4 linked regions of the Homo sapiens genome follow. The protein of the gene in region 2 purifies or fractionates together with the protein of the main gene of each other region. This does not show direct contact. Each region holds a gene or a part of one and is shown on either strand. Other genes may lie near its edges.

Evidence for each region.
Region 1: the proteins of MANEA (region 2) and NID2 purify together in Homo sapiens (affinity purification with mass spectrometry; one large-scale study listed by BioGRID and IntAct). This does not show direct contact.
Region 3: the proteins of MANEA (region 2) and PCYOX1L purify together in Homo sapiens (affinity purification with mass spectrometry; one large-scale study listed by BioGRID and IntAct). This does not show direct contact.
Region 4: the proteins of MANEA (region 2) and MAN2B2 purify together in Homo sapiens (affinity purification with mass spectrometry; one large-scale study listed by BioGRID and IntAct). This does not show direct contact.

The regions. Positions count from the first base shown.
Region 1 is NC_000014.9:52,058,053-52,064,035, forward strand, and holds part of NID2 (nidogen-2 precursor), read right to left. Parts: intron 2,305-5,983; coding exon 2,072-2,304; intron 1-2,071.
Region 2 is NC_000006.12:95,600,501-95,606,483, reverse strand, and holds part of MANEA (glycoprotein endo-alpha-1,2-mannosidase), read right to left. Parts: intron 1,658-5,983; coding exon 1,581-1,657; intron 737-1,580; coding exon 79-736; 3' UTR 1-78.
Region 3 is NC_000005.10:149,359,553-149,365,535, reverse strand, and holds part of PCYOX1L (prenylcysteine oxidase 1-like isoform 1 precursor), read right to left. Parts: intron 2,900-5,983; coding exon 2,693-2,899; intron 1,501-2,692; coding exon 1,326-1,500; intron 1-1,325. UniProt on the Homo sapiens protein: Likely to have oxidoreductase activity. Required in the mevalonate pathway to regulate prenylation and enhances the bactericidal activity of neutrophils.
Region 4 is NC_000004.12:6,589,706-6,595,688, reverse strand, and holds part of MAN2B2 (epididymis-specific alpha-mannosidase isoform 1 precursor), read right to left. Parts: intron 2,517-5,983; coding exon 2,339-2,516; intron 1,156-2,338; coding exon 957-1,155; intron 1-956.

The sequences.
Region 1 (5,983 bases), on a different chromosome or scaffold from region 2:
GGGAGAAACGAGAATGTGAGCAATGTTTATTATGCTGTTTACTGCAATGATATTTATAACAAGAAAAATCAGAAATACATGAAATGTTCATTAATAAGCTGTCTTTATACATATATGACATAACGTTTTGTAGCCTTAAAATGGTAGTATAGACAGACATCTGACTAAAAGACCCCTATAAGAAGTGATTAATGTGAAAACACCACTTACATAGCAAAAGAACCATTTTGGTTTTAAAAGTTTTGTATATACCTAAATTCTAGAAGGACCATTAACACTTGTTATCACTTGAAGTAGTGATCATGGATAACTTTTACTTTTATTTCACATTATTCTGCATTGCTTGTACTTTATTATTTGTATTAAGCATGGATTACAATAAAGAAAAATACGTGAGTCATTTGGCCCCATATCTTACTCTGCTTTCGCCAAGCAATTCAGAGATTTCTGGGAAGTATCAAAGATAAAAATGAGGGAAGGCATGAAAGGGGGTAAGTGGAAATGCTGTCTGTGTGTTTGTGTGTCACACGTGATTGTGGATGTTAGTTCCAAGAGACCTTTATGGCTCTGCTCAGGGAACACAACTGCTTTTTCCCACAGGTCTTTTGGCCCCACTGTCTCCTGTCTCCTGTGTAGATGCCAGCACTTACCCAGGGCTCTGTAATTGTTGATCTATTTGTCTATCAACCCTAATAGGGTACAAGCTGCTGATGTGCAGGACCAGTGTCTTAGAAATCTTTGTATTCCATGTGCTTGGCCATTGTGACCTCTCTATAATAATAAATCTATGGAATAATAAATCTATGAGCTCCCAAGTAGAAGAGAGGGTGGAACCAGAGGAGGGAGAGTAAGGAACTGAGTTTGCTCCAGAGTCCAGACTAAGCGGCAGCCTAGATGGAGCCCTAAAGATGCCCAATGTGGATCATAAGGATGGGAAAGGAAACAAGGACTCAGCATAAGATAAAATAAGTAGTTCAGCACTCCAGACTTGAGCTTGGATTTTGGCTTTGCCACTTAACTTTGAGATCATAGGCAATTTACTTAACTTCCCTAAGCTCCTCTGTAAAACTGGGAAAATAGTAGTACTAACCTACAATTCTTGTGAGTTTTAATTAAGATAACATCTGGAAAGTGTTTAGCATGATGCTTGGCAAGTAGTAAGTTTTCAATAAATGTCAGCTCTGAGTAAGCAAACCTGGCTATAGTGGTCTCTTTCTGGTAGCCGAGCAGAGTGGATGGCATGCTAAAAGTGTAAGGTGTTTCTATACCTACCCAGGATTGATTTAATGAAGTCAAGAAGCAGTTAAAGGAGGCCAGGAAGTAACCAATGTATTCTATCTGGCTTCTATATTCAGGAAACGAATAAAAGCGAGGGCACCCCTACCTCCCCTCACACACCCCCCAAAAAACCCTGAAGTCAATAAATATCCTACTGGCACTATCTGTACTGGCAAAATGCAGAAGAGCTTATTATTGCACTAGCTAAGTAAGCCCTCTGGATCATTCATTCATTCACCCATCTATTTATTAAATGCCCATTATGGGCAGACACTGATGAGTCTAAGGAATGGGTTCAATTCATTTTAGGTAATGAAGCCAGAGAGACATCCTCAGACTTCTGGAAACCTATAAATCTTAGTTATTTTTCCTGCAAATTACATTGCTCAATTTAATGTTTAACAGTATCTGTCCAAAAGACTAAATCACAATGTTTCCTCCTGTGAAATGATTAATCTGGAAAACCTCAAACTGGGCAGTTTATGACTGGATATTTTTATGTGGTTCCAAGAGCAATGTTTTTCATAGCAAGCCTCAGTGGCTCTACAAATACACACACATACTGTTCTGTTTCCAGTATCTATACCCAATAGAGCAGGAAAAATAAAGGACCTTTTATGTTTTGGTGAACTTGATCCTTCCAGGGTTGAATCTAGTTCCTTGGTTTTGACTTGATGCCTTACTTAGAAGCCACCAATATATTATGTAATGGTCTTATGGTCACTTGTGTTCAGGTACTTCCTAAAAGTCCTTATATTCAAATAGGAAAGGGCTTCAGCTCAATGTTACTTACTGATAGAGATTTTTCACAGACTGTTCAGTGCTAGTCAAGCTGAAATATGGTCCTTCTGACTTCAGATCATCAGCCTCCCCTCGGCAGAAGCCCACCCGAGCTGGAAGCTGAAGCTGGACATTGTAAGACTCTTTGGGGCGGGTTCCAAGGAACTGCAGGCCGTTGGCAGGATAAAGAAAGAGGGCGTAGCTATCAGACCCATCAGATGCCAAAACTGCCTGGAAAGTGTTCAGCTGTGAGGAAAAAAAAAAAAAAAGAGAGAGAGAGAGAGAGAAACATCCTGTAAAAAACAAATAAAAGAAGAAAGAAACAGAATGCAAGCAAAGCATCATAACGTGCAAAGAACTTCCCCTTTTTCAGGATTCCTCCAAATTGTTTTTAAACATAACCTTCTTTAAAATTTCCTCTTCAAGTTAACAATATAATTTCATAAGCAATATTATTTATTATTGCAAATACCATTTGTCAATTTAGATTAATAGTTGAAATACGCATTGGTAAAACATAGGTTAAAAAATATATACTTTGTAAGGTTTCAAACTTCTCTCATGTAAACTCTTTCAGAGCTAAGAGCAATCAGCAAAATTAACTTGTCCATCCTGCAGTCACTGCCCTAGTTTATAACCCTAGGCACTCAGCATCTCTCATTTGCATCATTCATTCATTCATTCATTCATCCATTTATTAAATGACCACTATGGGCAGGCACTGTGTTAGGCACTAGTTGGTCAAAAGGCCTCCTTACTGTCTCACAGCATCACTCTCTTTCCTCTTCCATCTACCCTTTCATACGAGCATCAGGGTTATCCTCATTTCACAGATGAGAAAAAGACACAGGGGCTAACAGGTCTTCCTCAGGTCAGGTGGCAAGTATGTGGTGGTGGGCCAGCCAGCTCTAGAGCCCACACCCTAGGACACCCTAACCCCTCCTCAACATGGCATTCAAGGTGAGTTGTAACCTGGCTGCATACGTCCCTCCCAGGCTCAGTTCCACTGCATCTTTGTCAGACTATTTAATAGTCCCCATTTGTACCATGTCCTTGGATGCTTCTACACTTTGTTCGTGGTTCCCTGTGCCTAGAAAGCCTCCTAACCTTCAAATGCTGCCACTCAGAGGTGTTTGTGATTCCCTATAGAATAATTTCTGTTCTCTGAACCTCTGTAACACCTTTATGGGCATCTCTAGTGAGCATTCACCTCATTATGCTTGGTTAGTTGTTTATATGTTTGTAAACACCATTCATTTATTCATTCATACACTAATTCAAACAGCCAAGTGTCTACTTAAGCACCAGACGTTATGCTTGATGCTGAGGATGTGAAGGAGCAAAAGACAGGCTTTGCCCAGGAGAGTCTCACGGTGTAGGACTGGGAAACAGCCATGGTTGAAATGGTAGGAGAGTCACTGGAGAAGGTGGTAGAGGCCAAGAGCCGGGGTGTGTGTCCAGGATCTCAGGGTGGAGGTTGGGAGGTGTCACAGAGGCAGCTGGTGAATGTTATAAACACTGCAGGAGCCAACACAGACCAGAGAGGGACCAGGAGCCTGAATCAGCTGCCAATTCAACACCCAGGTCCTTATAGGATCACTCCTTAACATTCTGTTTACCCTCATATTTTCAACAAGATGAGATTTTTGCCTTTACCTTCATTCAGCGACCGCTCCTCCTAAAGATCTGTGAACAGTGCTTGATTCTCAAAAAGCTGTTATGTTTAGGCTTCTGAAACTGTCTCTCTCTCACTAAATCACACTACTTTTACAATTTAGTAAGGAACTGGGAAGGTATTTTTAAAACACAACTTACTTCACAAATAATGTGACTCTTAGAAATATTATTTACTGGTAAGTATCATTACCTTTCCATTCTGCTAGACAGACAAACTCGGGCACAGAGAAGAACATCACATTTCACTGAAGGAAACAGCAAGGAAGGAATGGGCTCTTCCCTTTGTTCTAAGTCTACTCCCACAGTTGTTCTAGCTCTTTTCTAATGTTAATTTTTCCTTTCAATGTTTAATTTCAAAGTAAGGTTTTGAGGTTTTGCTAATAGGATAAAGAAATATAGATGTAACACACTTTTCAAGAGAAAATAAAATACAATCAGCAGTTCTTTTAGTTCTCTAACCCAGAAAAAACAACATCTTGCTTTGCTTTTTTCATTCATTCAATTCACAAAGTAACAGGTGCCTAGTTTATTTGTTATTGTTCCAGTTGTTGATTGTTCATCAGCAAAGCTTGACTTTTCCAAAAACAAAAAGCAAGAAATGTTTTTAGAGCTTCTCAATACTAGGAAGCCACAACTACTGCCAAATATAAACAAAGGCTGTTCTGCCTCATGTCTATCCATAAGATAGTCGACATCATCAACTAATGTGGACTCAATAACTTCAGAGTTATACATTAGTCAGAATAAAGAAAAATCAACTAGGGAAAGAAAAGTACTAGAGGAAGGAGAAAAAACCCCATTTCAAAAAGCTAAGCTTTCAAAGCTCCTGGCATTGATCTGCCATAATAAATGTGAGATAGGAGAGAATCCTGGTTCTAAATTTAGAGAAATTCCATAAGATAAGGAGGTTGTAGAGACTGTGAAGAATTGAAGGGGATGGGGAAGGGGGGAAGAGAGTAGTAAACAGAGCTGTGAAGAGGAGAGTCTGACTTTTTGCTGTGAACTCTGGGCATTTAGCACTTTATTTTATTCATTCATTCATTCAACCAGCCAACAAATTCATTTCAATTAAAATTTATTCAACATCTTCTATATACTGTTCTTGAGATGAGCACTCATTATGGGTGGCAAGTATTTAATTTCTTTGTCTCCACCAAAATAGGCAAATATCAGAGGAAGGAAACAACTTCCTTTTAAGTAGAATTTATGATCCCAAAGTACACGCCAAAAGAGTTTGGCTGTTTAAAAGCCACCCACACACTAAATGATCACTTGTAAAGTTCTTGGTCAGTTCTACAAAATTCTACATCTAATTGCTAAAGAGCCCACTTCATGAAGTCTTGAAGGGCTCCCCCTCTCAAAAAACTCCTTGACTGGCTTCCAAACAGGAAAGGTCCTCACATTCCTAGATACAAGCTTTTGCAAGAGCCGCACAGGCTCTGTCTCCAAAGAGAAGCCCTCAGATGGGCTGCCAAACCTGACAAACGAGTCACTGGTTCCCAGCTCCCCCAGGATCCCAGAGAGGAGAGAGGGGCCTCCACAGGGAGAGGAGCAGCACAGAGAGGATCAGGGTGAGTGGCTGCAGGCCCTGTTATCAGAAAGAGAGAAAAGCCAGAGCCCTCTGCAGAAACCAGAGCCTGACTCTCCCTCCCAGGTACAGGACATCCCAATCAATGTTGAAGTGACACTCATCAGAGCCAGGCTGATGCATGCAACATACACCCCTCTAAGAGTTTCTAATTTTTTCAATTCATTTAATTAACTGCAGCTATCTGGACAAAAATCAGAATAGTGACATCCTTTTCTTCAAGGGGCTTGCCTATAGAGGCTTATCAAAATGAAAATGAAAATGGAAATGAAGAATTAGGGTGACTCTTATAGGGGTCACAAAGTTCTCTTTGTCATCTTCCTCAGGACCACATGTCCTCTAGAGCTCTAGGATCATTGGGTCTGGCCTCCAGTGTTTGCTGTGAACACTAACCTCCATTCCTTAGTGTAGTTCTTCATCTCCCACTGCCTGTAGGACACTGTCACATGGGGGACTGTCCCTCATTTATTTTACTGCACTAAATCCTACAGATCCTGCCAAAAATTCAAAGACAAATGCTGAGTGCTATCACATCCCTAATACTATATCCTTCCTGATACTCTTCAGCAAAACGTCAGCATTTCTAATTTCCATATATGGTTCAGCATTAACCAATTTCCATATATGTCTCTATTCTCTTCATCTTCACAGTGATATCTC
Region 2 (5,983 bases):
TTTCTTTCCAGAACTCAAAACGAAAGCTATTTTTAAAAATTAGGTGATTTTGATAACTATTAAACTTTAATCAATGCATTAAGAAACAGGCAGCTGGCGATCTAATGCATAAGTTGCTCTTTCCTTACTGTATTTTTCAGACCACTTGCGAGTCAGTTCTAGGTAAAGACCTGGTTTATGAGGACGGTAATCTAGGTACACTGTATTACTGGTTCTTTTGGGAACAGCTTTTTCAATCTGAGTTCCTTCATGCCACTCATTAAAAGAGGTGATAGAAATTAAGCTGGGGCGTGTCTGAAGTGCGGCACTCAGACCAATTTCATAATACTTCCCATTGATTCGGTTCCGAGTGTTTTGCGTGTTCCATGGACGGATGCTGGTATCTATGTATCCTGGGCCCACACTTGGGATAAATATTAAGTTGTATTTATCACAAAATAATTTTAGGCTAGCCCAATTCTGATGTGATGAGCCATAAGTAAAGCCATTTGTGGCAAAATATGTGTAAATTCCATCAAAACCACTTTGAAGAATATCATACTTATGTTTTTCTTCTACCAGAAGGGCAATAAACAGTCCATCATAAGGAGAATTGCGAATACTCCGAGACCCTGAGGTGGTTAACAGATTGGCCCATTTTTCAGGCTTGGTAATATAGGAATCATAGACATAAAACATAGGAAGAGCATTGCCAGTCTTCGTCTTGTACCTGTAAAAGGCCGGATGATTTCCATATCTAGAAAATAAGCATATATAAAAGTGAAATGAATATTCACAACTAATTTGCCACAGACAAAAACTGTTTACTGAAAATGAAGGAGTCAGTGCAGTTTGAGCACACTGCTCCATTTCTTAGGGGAATCAGTTGTGTAAGTGTAATAATTAAAAATGCATTTTTAATTTTACACATTAGAAAATGAGATACTGGATGCATTACCAAACAAGTATTAACCATCTCATATTGAGGTTTACAAATGATGACTAATGCCATAAAAAGCCTATGTCTCTACATTATAAATAATACTCTACATAATACCTAAACTGCTTTTTTATCTATCAGTGATAAATGTTCTACTGTTGCTGACAAGTTTCTTTGTAAGACTATGGCATCTGTCACAGACTATTATCAGTAAAATTCTTTCAAAAAATGAAAACTGTATTAATAAATTCTTTTTGATCAGGCTAGATATAAATGAAAATATCAGCTCTGGGTCTACTGTGTTAAAAGAAGTAGTTCACTTTTAATAATCTGAACCTTCTTTTTAAAAAGATAAAGCTATATTCTGAAGGTTTAGAAAATAATGTCATTTTAAAATATCAAAACTACAGAAATCATAAATAGCCTATAAACCTGTAAAACAGTAAAAACAGCAATCTTCCAAAAAGAAAGTGAATTATAAGAAACTTCAGCAATGTTCTTCGAAATGATGGTGACATTCATTACAATAACAATTTAATTTTATTAAAAATGGAATAATCATAAATCATTCAAATCTCAAATATAATTTAATGTACTATTCTTAAAACAATAATTATCACTGGATAATATAACAATATTTATAAATATTGAAGAAACTCACTTGTCTATAATATACTTGACATTTTTGTACATGTTTTGATCATCTCGATTGCTATATGGTTCTATGTGAAAAGTAACCTAAAACAAACAATAAAATCAGTTAGGGGATAAATTATCTATAATGTAAAATTAGAAGTATACTTAATATATTTAATAAAGTAACTGATTTAATCACCTTAATTAAAGATGAATATTTATTGAACACAGAAACTACCAGAGAATTTTTACCAATAAAATTTACTGCTAAATAACATGCTAAACATTTTATATTATTATCTTGGTTAATCTTCACAACTCCCTAAGGTATTTCTGTTTTCTTAGTGAGGTAATCAAAGATAGACAGAACCTTAAGAAAGGTTCAGTAAGTTGTTCCAGGTCACCCAGTTTGTTGGAGGTAATATTGATGATCTGAATTCCGAGTTCAAATGCTTAACTGCTGTGCAATGCTTCTTTTTATGTTTACTCCTTATAAAAATGTTTCTTACATATTTGTATCCCATATAATATATATAGGAAATACTCTATATTCAGATATATGTTTCTTTTAGGAAAAAGACCAAAAAAATATGGTCCAGAAAAATCTGGATTTTTTTCAGGCATGTGACCATTAAGCTTAAATTTAAATAGAAGTCATTAGCAAATTTATTTACATATAAATTCTTCCATATCATTAAAACAGCATTTTACAAAATAATATACATTAACTTCTATTAAAGAATTTATAATGAAATCGCTTAAAAATAATATCCACTAGTGTTATAAAGGACATTTTTCATGATGCCTAGGTATTTATGGTTTGGATATCCCATACACACACACACACACACACACACACACACACACCTACATACATATATACGCACACATACATACATTATATATATATATGTAAACATAGAGAGCAGTAATTACAAATATTTTTAAAATACTGTGCACAGACTAAAATTTTTTAACTTAAGGTTGGCTATACATAAATCAAGACAAACTAATTATGGCTAGTAAAACCATTCTGTATGCTACTTCTAACTAGTAAGGTAAAAAATACAGAAGATACTTCTCTTAGATGACAATCTATTTCAGATTCATAAAACAAAGAATGAGGATTTTCACTTTTATTCCTAGTTTTACTGACTTACCAACATCAACTAAAAATCTTTATGGCAGTCTAATAAATGTATTGATACTGTTTTAATTTTAGGTTTCAGGCTCTATGATGTATTTATGGAACTAGAGACTTCTATTGCAATATGAAACTCCTCTGTTTTCAATTACCCAATTAAAGCAAAATGTATTTTACATTAATCAGTGCTACTTGTTTTCACATAATTAATTTTAAAGTTAAATAATATTTAAAAAAAATATAATTTTCTACTTTAAATGAGATTACAGTAATATTATAAAAGTAAGTTTCTGTCATAAAAAACTAAGGTCAAATTAATTTTTGCAGCATATTGTTAGTATTGCCAGGGTAGTAACTGCTAGGGCAGCTAGATTTCTCAATAACTTTGGTATTTGCTTTTTAAATTCAGTTGAAAGCAAATTGCCTAGTGTATAGGTATTTTCATACTATTACATAATGTTTCCTTGGGTAATTCTTCCTTCAGTTACATCACTGTGTTTTCTAAATTTCCATTTTATACATAAAGGACACCATATTTAAGCAATATCCAACTTGAAATATCCTATATCAAAATGAATTTGCTTTTACAGCTGCAAACAACAAATAGCATGCTATTTTTGTAAAGCGCAGATCAATATATTTAAAGTAAATATAGTATTGATAAGTATAAAATATTTAAAATTTTCCCTCATGTATTTCTAATTTCTTAATTATAATAAAATTACTTTGCAATTTTTTTTTTTTTTTTTTTTTTTTTTGAGACGGAGTCTCGCTCTGTCGCCCAGGCCGGACTGCGGACTGCAGTGGCGCAATCTCGGCTCACTGCAAGCTCCGCTTCCCGGGTTCACGCCATTCTCCTGCCTCAGCCTCCCGAGTAGCTGGGACTACAGGCGCCCGCCACCGCGCCCGGCTAATTTTTTGTATTTTTAGTAGAGACGGGGTTTCACCTTGTTAGCCAGGATGGTCTCGATCTCCTGACCTCATGATCCACCCGCCTCGGCCTCCCAAAGTGCTGGGATTACAGGCGTGAGCCACCGCGCCCGGCCATTACTTTGCAATTTTAATTAATGATGTGATCTAGTCTCCATCTCTCTATTCCATTTGGAAAAATCAATTAGATCAATGTTAAAATAAATTTTAAAATAACAGAATTCTATACATAAAATGAAATGTCTTTCTTATCTTTAAAGAATAAGAATATAAACATTCCCTCATTTCATGTTTTTAATTTTGACCTTTCCTGTCTCTTCCCTACCCTGCATTTTAATAACTTTAATAAATAAATTTTAATAAAATGAACTTTTTTGAATGAAAATCTGATAACTTTCTCCTTCTCCAACTCTATTCTCTACCTTCACCCCTGCACACTCCCCTATCCCCTGCCACAACAAAATTGAGGTAGGTCTTCCTACTCCTATGTGGTGCCATAATACCTCATACTTTTCTCTTCCTGAAATTTACTTGTCTTTGTGTCTGACCTCCAGTAGATTACAAGGCATTTTAGGGAAAGAGATAATACTTCATCCTTCTTCTTAATATTGTCAGCATCTGGGACTGTATCTGACACGTAGCAGGTGCTAAATGAATGAATGCATGCATAAATAAATGGACTAATGATTTGCATGCAAAAACAAACAACAGTTAAACTCTTAAGTCTGTCACTTATACTGGATTTAGGTAAGATTCCCAAAGTTTCTGCCATGAATTCACAATATTCATTTAACAAGGAAAAAGAAAAAGGAGAGGCCATGACTAATATAACATGTTTCAAATGTAGGTGAAAATCATTTAAAAAAGAATCACGGACATACTTATATTCATGTTTCACATGGTTGAAATCTGCATAAGCCTGAAAAGCAGATAAAATGACTCTAGAGCCATATGCAAAGAAATAATGGATGTTGATAAACCTAGTATAAGAAATGTGATTTCTGCATAAAGTAGAAAGAAAATATGCTACTTTAAAATAACATACTAAATTTATTAAAATGAAAGAAGATCACCAGGGCTGAGTTGGTTCTTTCCCCTATAATCCTAAGCAAAAAAAAAAAAAAAAAAAAAAAAAAAATCACTGAATCTGCCTAATTTTCTTTTACTTAGATGAATGATTTAATTCAGTCAAGTTTTGATTAGATAATGCCATGTAACAACCCCACAATCTCAGTGGCTCTAAAAGACAAACATTTGCTTTTCGAACATAAAATCTATGAACTGGCTTATGATGGTTCTGCTCCAGGCTGGTTCAAATCAGCTCCACGTGTCTGTCATTCTGAGTCCTAGGCAGAAAGGGGCATGCTTTTCTTATAAAAGAGAATAAGAGCATAATCATGCAAGCACATAGTATACATTATCTCTTCTCACATCTCATCAGCCAAAGCAAGCCATAAGGCCAAACCCAACAACAACAGGGCAGGAAGTATACTTACTCTTTGCATGCAGGGGAAGGAAAACCAGATTATTTGCTAAACAATGACGGAATCTACCAAATATTTCTGTCATGTCTTACTCAAAAAATTGTTCCGTTGCTGTGTTCTTAATGGTGCAGGATATAGAGGAAGGAATCCAGCCCTGATTTTTACACTCTCTGCAAAACCAGCCTACTAAATGACAGTTATAAGTGCAACAGCCTTTGCTCTAGCAAACATGCAGACAAGTATACTTTAAAAGAACAGAAACTAAATCGCTTTGAAAAATCAAGATTTAAATTTTAGTTTCACTCATTTACACTTCCAAAAAAAAACCTAGTCACATTTGCTAAAGATAATGAAAAATAACTAAAGCACCAATCATTTCCTTTTCTTGCATGTTTGTTTATAATTTAAAAGGCACTTACTTAAAATAACTCTTGGTTGAAGTTAACAAATCAAAATTACAATTACAAAATATTTAATGACTAATATTAGTAAAAACATTATATAATCAAAATGAATGAACTATAACAAAAGTTTAACTGTGAGACGGATTCATTCCCTAAAAATTCTCCATCCATTTAGTATTTCCATGCTTTGAAGACTAGCAAGAAAAAAGAGATGTTACTAATGAACGCATTTTACACTTAAAAGTTTTAGATGTGGTCAGTTATGTGCATTGGAGGCTCCAATTTGTCAGCACACAATCTACAACATCATTAATCTTTTCCTATCAGATTGCCTTAGCACACTGAATAATTCTAGTAAGGTACTGTCATTCATTAAACATATTAAAATTTCCTTATATTAGCAAGAAAAGGGAAAGTTTTCCATTCTTTAAAAAAACAGGATTTACTGCATTTTATTGAGTTAGGA
Region 3 (5,983 bases), on a different chromosome or scaffold from region 2:
CTTCATGCTGATACTGTCACCTTCTCTGCCAGTCCAGCCTGTCCTCTCCTCTCGCTTCATCTGACAGGGCTCCCACTCACCCCCAGGCTCATGTCCTGTCGCTCTATCACTCATGCAATCTCACTAGCATGGATTGGAACCATCGATGGATTTCCTGACTGGCTGGCCTTTGAAATGTTGCCCATTCTAGGGCTTCTTTTGTAAACATGTTGAGTTTGGTTATCAATAGGACACGAGATGGAGGTGTCCAGAAAGTTGAAATGTGGGTCTGGAAGTGAAGAGGAAACTAGGGCTGAGAGGGAGAAGTCATTTCCCATAAAACGTAGAAGTCAACATTATTGGTCTGGATATAATTGATAAGGGAGAAAAATATCAGAAAGAGAGGTAAGGAAATAAGCTTTGGGTGACATCTGGAGAATATAAGGAAGAAGTGCTATAAACAGCAGAGTTATAGAATGGGAAGGGAGTGGAGAAGTGCCAGGAACCAGGGCAGGAGGGCACAGGCCACACTTGAGTGACACTGAAGGGAGGCAGACAGTGATGGGGTCCGGGGAGCAGCCCCTGCGCCTTAGGCTGGAAGCAGGGAGCACCTTCAGGAGGGACTTTGGGGAAAGGTGGAGTGACAGCTTGGTGAACAGGGAGGGAACAGACCACTTGCCCTCCACATCTGGGACCAAAGGTGATGGGGAGGGGGCTGGAGCCCAGGGATAGGAGGAGTGGTGAAGAAAGGTGTTTATTCTAGATGGAAAAATGAGGACAACAAAGTTTGCAAATGAGTGGTCCACAGGCTGCATCTGCCCTGCAGAAGTGTTTCATTTGGCTTACAAGATGAATTGGTTGCAAATGTTGAAAAACTGAAAAGATTTCACACACGACTCTGGATTTCCAGCTTCTTCTGAAAAGTGAGTAGATCTAGCCACATGAGGTGGGCATTGTACACGGCTGGCTGCAGATGGCTGCGGTGGAGGGCTGGCTGCCTCCTTCAGAGGGGGCCTTGTTCTGCTCTCTTCCACCTGCTGATTCACTGACTCGCATCCCAGTTCAGCCCTTGTTAAGCGACTGAGTTTGCAACCCATGCTTTTATTAGTATCAGTGTAGTAGAGGGTAAGAAAATGAGAGTCAATGTGACAATACTAGGGAGACCATTACTGGACCAAATACGGCCATTCCTCATGCCAGGGGCTTGCTCTGAGCCTGCACTGAATTGTGCTGGCTCAATTCAGCAAGGACCTTTTCCTTTTTCACAAAGTACAGGCAAGCTGGTTCCTCCCCCACCTCTTCTCGGTTCCCCTGGAACGCCATCCCCACAGCTCTGCCAGCCCTACCTCATGAACTTCTCCATGACCTCCTCCACCCACATCTGCAGCCTCAGGAAGCTGATGCCATAGTGCCACCAGAGGCGGAAGAGGTTCAGCAGGTACCAGTCAGTCTCCTCCAGCATGAAGTGCTCCCCGCCGAAGATGGCGCTCCTGCCCACCACCTCGCGCCGGTGCCTCAGCCCTGCAGAGACAAAGAGGAGCCCCTCAGGTCCCCTCCAAGACTTGGGGCCCTCTTGATGCAAATGGACTGGTCCATTAAAGGAAACACAAATGCTATGGTTTGTTCATTTGTGCTGCTTGTTAATAAACAGTAAACAGATGCACTGGGAAAATGTTTGGACTACCAAGTCAATAAAAAAATGAAAATGAAAATAATGTAACATTTTACATTTTTTTTCCCCAGGAGGATCCACAAGTGAGGGAAATTCAGATTTTATCCCAGAATGTCCAGGGGGTGACAGCCACTGGGCTTGTTTGGAGATGGTGGCCTTGGGCACTGAGATCACTTGGAAGTTATCCTAGCTCCTTACAGCCATCCTGCACTCTGCAACTTGACAGAGCAGTGGACTCCTAAACACAGACAGAGCTGCTATGACTTGTTCCTTCCCCACCCCCACATACTACACACACTGCTCTCCACTTTAACAATACACTGTATCTTGGAGATTGCCCTGTATCTGGGCATAAAGACTTCCCCATTCTGACTGCTGAACAGCCTATTGTGTAGTTATACAATAATTTGTTTAACCCCAGGTCCTAGTGGATAGGCAGCTAGGATACTTTCAGCCTTTTGCTATTACAAACAATGCTGTAGTGAATAACTTGGTATCTATGCTACTTTGCACATCTGTAAGACCACCTGTAGCATCACTTCTGAGAAGCAGAGTTTCTGCATCAAACAGAACGTGTATTGGACAGATGCTGCTGGGTTTGAATCCCACCTCTCGCTGTAATGGCTTTAGCTTAAATCTATACATTTTCTGAGCCTCAGTTGCCTTAAGAGGAGATATAACACTCATCTTGCAGGTTGGTAGAGGGGAGCTGAGGTAATGCCTACATACCACCCAGAAGGTGCCTGGCAAGCACTAGCATGTGGAAGGTGATATAATCACGATTATTTAGAGGCAGCAAATTGAAAGGGAAAGAAACTGGCCTAGGAGTCAAACCTGAGTTCTAATCCCGGCTCTGCAACTAACTCACTGTGTAACCTCAGGCAAGTTCCTTCCCCTCTCTTGTTTCTGTTGCTCCATCTGTAAAATGAGATTGGGCCACATGACCTTCTGGCCTTGATGGTCTGGGAAGTCTGAGAAGGGCCCAGTGCTGTCACCAGCCCCAGGGCGCTGGGCACTGGAGCCCCAGGACTGACCACTCACCCAGCAGCTTGACGAAGTCCTGCATGTGCAGGCTCAGGGAGTGGAAGGAGGCAGCCCCGCTCTCATAGTGCTGCTTGTTGACTGAGATGGTGGCCAAGCGGCCACCCACGGTTCCCTTCTCGTACACGTCGATCTGCACCCGAGGTCCAAAGTGCTGCTGGAGAAAATGGGCCACAGCAGAGCCCCCAATCCCAGCCCCAACCACCGCTGTCAGCAGGCCCGGGAGGTAGGGAAGAAGAGAGACAGAACATGAGAGTGAGAGGCTGTAGTTCACACTTTGTATCCTCCTGCGCTGGTGGTTCCCAGGTGCTTAAATTTCCTAGGCTTATAACATTTCCAAAAGGAAATCTGCGGACTGAGTTGTCAGTAGAGCTATTAATAAGCAAAGGCAAACCTGAAAACTGCTGCCTACTATACTTTCGTTTCATAAAGAAAAAGGTATTTTGCAGCAAAAGACCAGCAAAGAATACTGAAAGTCAGGATGACCAATTAAAGAGAATAAATTTAGTTTTATATAAAACTCACTACCTTGCTTCTAACTTTCTTATTTCCCTATGAATTGTTAAAAGTTACTGACCAGTTCTGTTCAGTGATCAGTGTTTGGAAACCAGGCCTTAATCCAGGGATTGGCAAACTACAGCCTGCAGGCCAAATCCAGAAAGATGCCTGTTTTTGCAAACTAGAGTTTTATTGAAACACAGCCATGATGCTCTTTCTTTCAATTATTGTCTATGACTGTTTTCATTTTAGGCAGAGTTGAGTAGCTGCAACAGAGACTGCATGGCCTGAAAAGCCTAAAATATTTACTCTCTGGCCATTTACAGAAAAAAGTATGCCAACTCCTGGTCTAGTCCAACCTACTATCGGACACCTAAATCATCCTTATGTCTGTGTTTGTCAAGACTGGAATGTATCTGCCAGGCGCGGTGGCTCACGCCTGTAATCACAACACTTTGGGAGGCCTAGCGGGGGCAGATCACCTGAAGTCAGGAGTTCGAGACCAGCCTGACAAACATGGTGAAACCCTGTCTCTACTAAAAATACAAAATTAGCTGGGTGTGGTGGCGCATGCCTGCAATCCCAGCTACTCAGGAGGCTGAGGCAGGAGAATCGCTTGAACCTGGGAGGCGGAGGTTGTGGTGAGCTGAGATCGTGCCATTGCACTCCAGCCTGGGAAACAAGAGCAAAACTCCATCTCAAAAAAAAGAGACTGGAATGTACTCTATGATGGATTGTTCATTACCCTACAGGACACTATATTCCAGTTTGAAATCTTGTTACAAAGTTTCAGCTTTTTTGGGTCTTATCATACACTGTCTTTACTGTACCTCCTGCCTTCCTGTTATTTGTAAACTTGGTTTACATGCCATCACTATTCTCATCGAAGTCACTGATAAGAATGTTTCCTGGGACAGGGCTTGGAGGTGCTGCTAGGAAACCACTGCCTGGACAGACATCAATCAGTTTTTTTTCAAACAGGATCTGGCTCTGTTGCCCAGGCTGGAGTGCAGTGGCATGATATTGGCTCACTGCAAACCTCCCAGGCTCCCAAGTAGCTGAGACTACAGGCACATGCCACCATGCCCGACATATTTTTCGTAGAGATGAGGTTTCACCATGTTGCCCAGGCTGGTCTTGAACTCCTGAGCTCAAGTGATCCTCCTGCCTTGGCCTCCCCAAGTGCTGGAATTACAGGCATTAGCCACTGTGCCTCACCTGACACTAATCATTAAACAGTCCTGTGAGAGAACTATAAACCAGCTATGAAGCTACTGAACTGGACTACCACCCTACCTATAATTTTTGCTCACCATGTATCTGAAACACCACTCTCTTCTCATCAGACAGTCCAGAGGCCTTACCCCAAAAGAAAATTAAATAAATCTGGTGTAATTTGTCCTTACTGGACCCATTTGGACCCACAGAGTACCAGTTCCTGCCAGAAGTCACAGGCAATCCTCAGACAGCACCAGGTTCTCTATGATCTGGCCTCTGCTTACTTATTCCATTTCCTGCTTTACCCTCCCAAGATGCCACCTTCTTGTCTGTCTAGGCTTCTCTTATTGTGGGCACATAGCTTTGTTCTCTCATGCCTGGGCCTTTGTCCGAGCTGTTCCCTTTGATAGGAGTGCCATCACCCTGTGTCTCACTGGCTTCAACAGCCCTCAGATGTCACCTATAACTTGGCTTGACTGACCCACCTGAGGTGAGTCAGGTGTTCCTCCTGCATATTCCCACAGCACACTCTGCTTAGCCGTACTGTAGTCAAGTTATTTAAGGACAGAGAGAGAGTGCATGATCACTATGTCCCCAGATCCTGGTGGACAGTAGAGTTCATGAAGTATTTTTTCTGTGTTGAAAGAATAAACCACTTCCTCTCACAGTACTTACAAAGCCACTTCCAAGACAGCTTTGGATTTTATTTTAACCAGTGTGCTCCCATCCCCTCCATGTGCAAAGAGTCCCAAATTACCCATTTTTCCAGAGAAATTGATATTAAGGCCTAGAAGCTGCCCAAGATCAGGAAGCAGAAGACACCACTTCATTGTGAACCAGCTCATTTAACACAACTGACACCAATTCTCTAATTTACAGTAAGATGTCCTGGGGCACAAAGAAAAATCAAACAGGCTTCTGTCCCCCAGGACCCCAGCATGGAATGGGCAGACAGACTCCTGCGCAATTAGCAACGACAACCCATGATGAAGTGCAACAGGGTTCCAGGGAGTCCTGAAGGGGAAGCAGTGAATTCTGCCCCAGAGGGTGTGGGGACACAGCCTTCTTGGGGAAATAAGATTTCATGCAAGATGCTGGAGGACAATCAGCTTTGTCAGTGAGAGGACACGCACACTCTGCAAAGAGACCAGCATGAGAAGGGCAGCATATGGAACTATATGGGTGGGTTTAGAGGGTCCTGATGCCACTTGGGGGTTCTCAGATTTGGTCCTGCAGAAGCACAAGCATTAAGCCATCCTAACAGGAATCCGCATTCTTGTTGTGGGTAGAGTCCAAACCACCAAGGATGAACAGAGGCTCCCGTCAGAGGGCTGAGGAAAATCTAGAAAGCTGAAGGGCAGTGAGGCATTGCCAAGTGTCCTGCTCTGGATGACTCTTGGATGGGGCCAGAAGGGCCAGCTGGGAGGAAGGAGGCAGAGAGCTCCATGTTGCCACAATGCAGCAATTCTGCTGGGTGGAGGTCCTGCTCCTTCCCCAATGGTGAGAAATGTCCTGTCCTGTTGCCTGTTCCTAAGAAAACGGGGAGTGCCCTGCATATTCCCACAGCACACTCTG
Region 4 (5,983 bases), on a different chromosome or scaffold from region 2:
GTATTAAGAGGTGGGATGCTTAAGAGGAGATTAGGCCATGAAGGCTCTGCCCTCGTGAACAGATTAATGTCATTGTCATGGGACTGGGATTGTTAGAAAAGCAAGTTCAACCCCCTTGTCCGGCTGTTCTTTTGCACTCAGCCTTCAGCCATGGGTGATGCAGAAAGAAGGCCCTCTCTAGACACCAGCCCTCCACCTTGGACTTCCCGGCCTCTACATCTGTGAGCCAAAGAAACTTCGTTTCCTAATCAATGACCCATTCTGTGGTATACTGTTACAGCAGCACCCAGAGGTCTAGGACATCTGCTGAGCCCTGCCTCTGTGCTGGGCAGGAGGCTGAGAGCACTTCTTCTCATTGAATTTTCACAGCAACCCTATCTATGCACGAGGCACCACAAATGTCCCCCTTTGGAGACAGGGTGGTTTCATGACTTGCACACAGGCAGCGAGTAGAGGCTTACTCACAGCCAGCCCTCTTAGCTCTCAGGCTGTGCTGCTGGTGGCCAACCCAGTTCTGGCCTGAGGACACAGGCATGATGCACAGGAGGTGCCCAGTAATGACTGTGCAGTGAAAGGAAGCCCGAGTCAGCCTCAGCATCAGGAAAGGGCTCGTAGAAGAGGTTTATGTGGAACTCATGCAGGAAGAGAAGGTGATGGAGGCCGCTCCCAGCAGGAGGCACCACCTGTGCAAAGGCCAGAGGCAGGAAACTGCATGTGGTGGGCAATGGTGAGAGGCTGAACCCTGTGGGAATCAGGTGGTGCATGTGGTGGCCAGGACGTCCAGGTGGAGTGAGCAGAGAGGGTCAGTCTCTGCCCCTGCGCCCCACACAGAACCTGCCTGGAACCCCTCCAGGGCTTGGAGAGCAGTGCCGAGCAGCCACTGAAGTGGGCAGAGGGTACGTGGACTATACCCTCCCTGCCACCAAACTACCACCCCAGCCCCTGGAAGCCTGTACCTGTGGAATAGGGCAGGAAGTCGTGGTGGTCGCGGACACGCCAGGTGACATTGAGAGCGTGCAGGGCACGGAAGTAGTCGCCCAGCGTGGCATACTGCACCGAGACACCGAGCTCGGCAGCATGGCTGTTGATGTGGTCCAGCAGCGGGTCCATGTTGGCAAACTGCACCGAGGCATTGAAGAACTGCTTGTCACATCCCTGCAGGGACATGGGAGCAACATCCTGTGCCGTGGGAGCAGGGCGCTCGCCCAGTGGGGGTGGGCCGATCGCTGCCCTCCACCAGCTGCCCTCCCAGTCTCCAAGGCGGCCAACAGGGGCCCCAAACCAGCTCCCATAGCAGTGGCTTGATCTCGGCTCATGCAACCTCCGCCTCCCGGGTTCAAGTGATTCTTCTGCCTCAGCCTCCCTGAGGCTGCAGGCGCCACCACACCTGGCTAATTTTTATATTTTTAGTAGAGACAGGGTTTTACCATGTTGGCCAGGCTGGTCCCGAACTCCTGACCTCAGGTGATCTGCCTGCCTTGGCCTCCCAAAGTGCTGGGATTATAGGTGTGAGCCACAGCGCCCGGCCCTGGGCATCTCTTAAGGCCCATCAGTGTTACTACTTATCCAAATCATTATAATTAATGATTATTAATTATTATAATTAATATAATGATTAATAACAGCAATAATAACCATGACTGAGTTACTGATCTTAAGCTTGCCTTCACAAGGGCAGTCACGGATGAAGAAGGCAGGCTCTGGGGCCCGCCTGACTGGGTCTGAACACAAATTCCACCCCTTCCTAGCCACCCTAAGGAACTCTGTGGCCTCAGGAAAATTCCTTAACCTCTCTGGGCCTTGGTTTCCTCAACTGTGAAATGGATACCAGCCTGCTTCCTAGGCCCAGTGGTGCAAATTAGATGGCTGAGACAAATATATCCCACGGGGCAGTGCCCAGCACACAGCAGGTGCTCACTAAAGGTTAGCTGTGACGATGGCCACGACGTGCCGGGCACTGGCTTCCCGGGAACGCTTCACCTCTCACCAAGCCTATGAAGCCTGCTGCCACCATCCCCATTTTACAGCGGAGGCAACTGAAGCTCAATGGACTCTAAGGCACGCAGTGCCCGAGCCGGGAGCCAGCCCGGCCCAGGCAGGGAAGAGAGCTGAGTGGGAGCTGGAGAGGCCAGCGTGGGTGAGGGTGCTTTTCCAGGTGGGGGAGGGGCTGGTAGAGTGGGAGAGGCCCAGGGGTCTGCAGGGAAGGAGGATGGAGCCACTGGGCTGAGCATGGCTGCCTAGCTGGGTCTGGATAGGGTGGCCCTGGGTGCAGGGACCAGGGCTTGCATAGTGCTCCTTGGGCTGTGTTGAGGGCACAGCACCTGGGACTCTGCCTTACCCAGGGCCAGAGGACGTGCGGTGTCCGGAACCAGGCGGCCCTCTGCTTCACGTTGGCCACCAGGGCCTCGGCATAGAGGTTGATGTTGGCTGGGGTGACAGGCTCACTCATGTTGGGGTACACCCCATCTTGGGGAGGCTTGGGGAAGACAGCCACGCCATTCCAGTAAAATCCTGACCTGTGCGAGGGCAGAAGGTTAGGGCAGAAGACACGAACTCTGTGGACAGCCAGGGCTCACACCCAAGTGCCATGTTCTCCCAGCCTTGGGACCTTGGCACATCATTTCACCCTGAGACTGAATTCTCCCACTCCATGACCGACGGTGGGTCACAGATTTGTTTGCTCATTCACGCAGGCCAACTTCTCGCCCATCAGACCCCGGGTCTCAGGACCCCAAAGAGGCCGGGGGCTTGGTGAGGCAAGTGAGGCCCTGGCCTAGGGCACAAAATTTATGGGGGTGCCTCAATTCTTAGTAGTTGAGATAAATGATATTTTAATGCAGTACTTTAAAAAATGAAAATTAATGCAAAAAACCCATGAGGAACAAAATGTCAGAGTTTTAAATAAAGACAGGCTCAGTATTTAACATCTTTCTCTGTTTGCCTTAGGCTGGGGGTGTGGAGAACCCCCAGTTAAGTGCCTTCCTTGCTCACACTGTGCAGCCTCGGGGTAGCAGCCATGGAACCCTTGTCTGGAGCTCTCCAACCTGGGCAGCCCCTTCCAGCATTCCCACCTCTGTTTCTTTTACAGACAGGGTCTTGCTCTGTTGATCAGGCTGGAGTGCAGTGATATGATCACGGCTCACTGCAGCCTCGAACTCCCGGGCTCAAGCCATCGCCTCAGCCTCCCCAGGAGCTGGGACTACCACCATGCTCGACTTGTTTTTGAATTTTATGTAGAGACGAGGTCTTGCTCTGTGGCCCAGGCTGGTCTCGAATTCCTGGGCTCAAGCAATCCTCCCACCTCAGCCTCCCAAAGCATTGGGATCACAGTCATCAGCCACCAGCACTGCCACCTCTAGCCTCACCAAGCTCCCTGGTAGAATGTGGAGCAGGTTGTTGTGAGGATTAAATGAAAGTCATTTATGGAAAGGAGCTAGAAACAGTGCTGGGCACAAAGGAGGGCTGACAAATGGCAGTGACCGCTAATTAATCCCGGCCAGTGTTCTTCACCCCCTCTGCCTTGCCTGTTGTCTTTCCTCTTCCAAGAGAGGCTAAGCACCTGGCCAGGGCAGAGTGCGGATTTGAACCCAGGGCCGTCTGACTGCACAGAGACCAAGGCTGACTGCTGCCACCACGTGGAGGCTGCAGAGCTGGTGGCCTGAATCCAACGCTGGCTCCACCACGTCTGCCAGCTGTGGGACCTGGGGCGGGCTGCTGTGCCTCAGTTTTTCCTTCTGTAAGATGGGGCACTCACAGCATCTCCGTCAGTGGGCTGCTGCGAGGGTCTGTGAGGTATCACAGGGAGAATGCTTGGAACAGGGCCTGGCTCATGGTGGGTGCTTGGAACAGCAAGCCAGGAATGTGAATGTGGGTTCACTGCCTATCCTCTCTGCCCCCGGGGGGTCCTGGTCCATGGCTCCACACTCCTGGTCCCCACTGAGTCTTCACCCAAAGCCTTCTGGGGAAGAAGGTGTACAGCGAGGCTAAAATCCCATGTGCTTCTTGACATCTGAGCCTTGAAGGCCCCCAGGGGCCTAGGAGTCCCCTGCTGTCACCTGATAGCCCCCACCAGCAGAAAAGTCCTCTTGTCTAGCTCTTCCACTATCAGTCAGACCAGCTGCACCCCACCTGGTCCTCCACCCAACAGTTTCCACCTCCCTGCCAGCTGGTGAAATTATTCAAATGAGCCACTCACGTCCTCTGCAGGAGTCGGAGGGCACCCGCCCCCTTGCTGCTACCCAGCTGCCCCTGCGTGTTCAGTCCGCTCCACAGTGCACTCCCACGGGGCCTTGGCGAGTAAGGTGTGAGCTGTGATTGTATGTGATAAACAGAAGCTGCTATGGACGTCACCTGTGCTGGGTAGGGTGGTGTGTATTCAACCATCTACCATTTAGGGTGAGGACCCCTCCCTCACCACGGGGTGAACGGGAGGTGATTGGACAAGAGGCAGCTCCGCAAGACAAGGATGAGGAGCGATTTATTCCCAAGGGTCTCCAGGCCCCTTCCCTCTCCCACTCCTCCAGCCTTCTTTTTTTTTTGTTTTGAGATAGAGTCTGATTCTGTCACCCAGGCTGGAGTGCAGTCATGATCTTGGCTTACTGCAACCTCCATCTTGTGGGCTCAAGTGATTCTCCTGCCTCAGCCTCCCAGGTAGCTGAGATTACAGGCAATGCTGCCATGCCTGGCTAATTTTTGTATTTTGACTACAGACAGAGTTTTACCAGGTTGGCCAGGCTGGTCTCAAACTCCTAACCTCAAGTGACCCACCTGCCTCGGCCTCCCAAAGTGCTGGGATTACAGGTGTGAGCCACTGCGCCTGGCCTCCTCCGGCCTTCTTCATTGTGATCCCTGATAGGGACAAGGATGAGGAGGGGAAAGGGTGGGTGGGGACGAAGCCTTGTGCCAAAGCCCCAACAACAAAGCCAGGCCACGTCAGGAACGGGTGGGGAAACACCCATGTCCGGGGGCCTTCCCCCTGCATCCACAGCACCCCTATCCCTGCACCTGCAGCCTGGAACCCAGCTTGCTCTCCAGGCCCAGGCGGGATAGAGGCAGGGAGATCACTGGGGTTGAGGGCAGGTGAGCTTGGAGGGTGTTAGAGAGACACTGGACAGTGCCCTGGAGGACCGTGGACGGGATGGGGTGCCGATGGATGGCTCCTGGAAGTCAGCACATTCAACTTCCTCACCTGGCAGGTACGGACAGGCGAGGCGAGAGCAGAAGGGGACCTGTCATGGCCAGGAAGGAGGTTCTTGGGAACACTGATGTAAAGACCTCATCATTGATTGATTGATTGATTGATTGAGACAGAGTCTTGCTCTGTGGCCCAGGCTGGAGTGCAAGTGGTGCAATATTGGCTTACTGCAACCTGTGCCTCCCGGGTTCAAGTGATTCTCCTGCCTCAGCCTCCCAAGTAGTTGGGATTACAGGGATGCGCCACAACACCCAGCTAATTTTTTTTTTCTTTTTTTGTATTTTCAGTAGAGACGGGGTTTTGCCATGTTGGCCAGGCTGGTCTCAAATTCCTGACCTGAAGTGATCCACCTGCCTTGGCTTCCCAAAGCGCTGGGATTACAGGCATGAGCTACTGTGCCCGGCCTATTTTTTTTTTTATTTTAAATAGAGACAGGTTCTCACTCTGTTGCCCAGGCTGGAGTGCAGTGGTACCATCAGAGCTCACTGTAGCCTCCAACTCCTGGATTCAGGCGACCCTTCTGCCTCAACCTCCTAAGCATCTAGGACTGCATGCACCCAGCTAATTTTTAAGTTTTTGTAGAGATAGGTTCTCACTAGGAAGCCCAGGCTGGTTTTGAACTCCTGGACTCAAGTGATTGTCCTGCCTCAGCCTCCCAAAGTGCTGGGATTACAGGCATGAGGCACCGCACCCAGCCAAGATCTCATCCTTTAAACAATCCTCTTTTGGGACAGGGACTCATAACAAGAAGCAATTCAGAGTCACACAGAACTGGAGTCAAATCCTGCC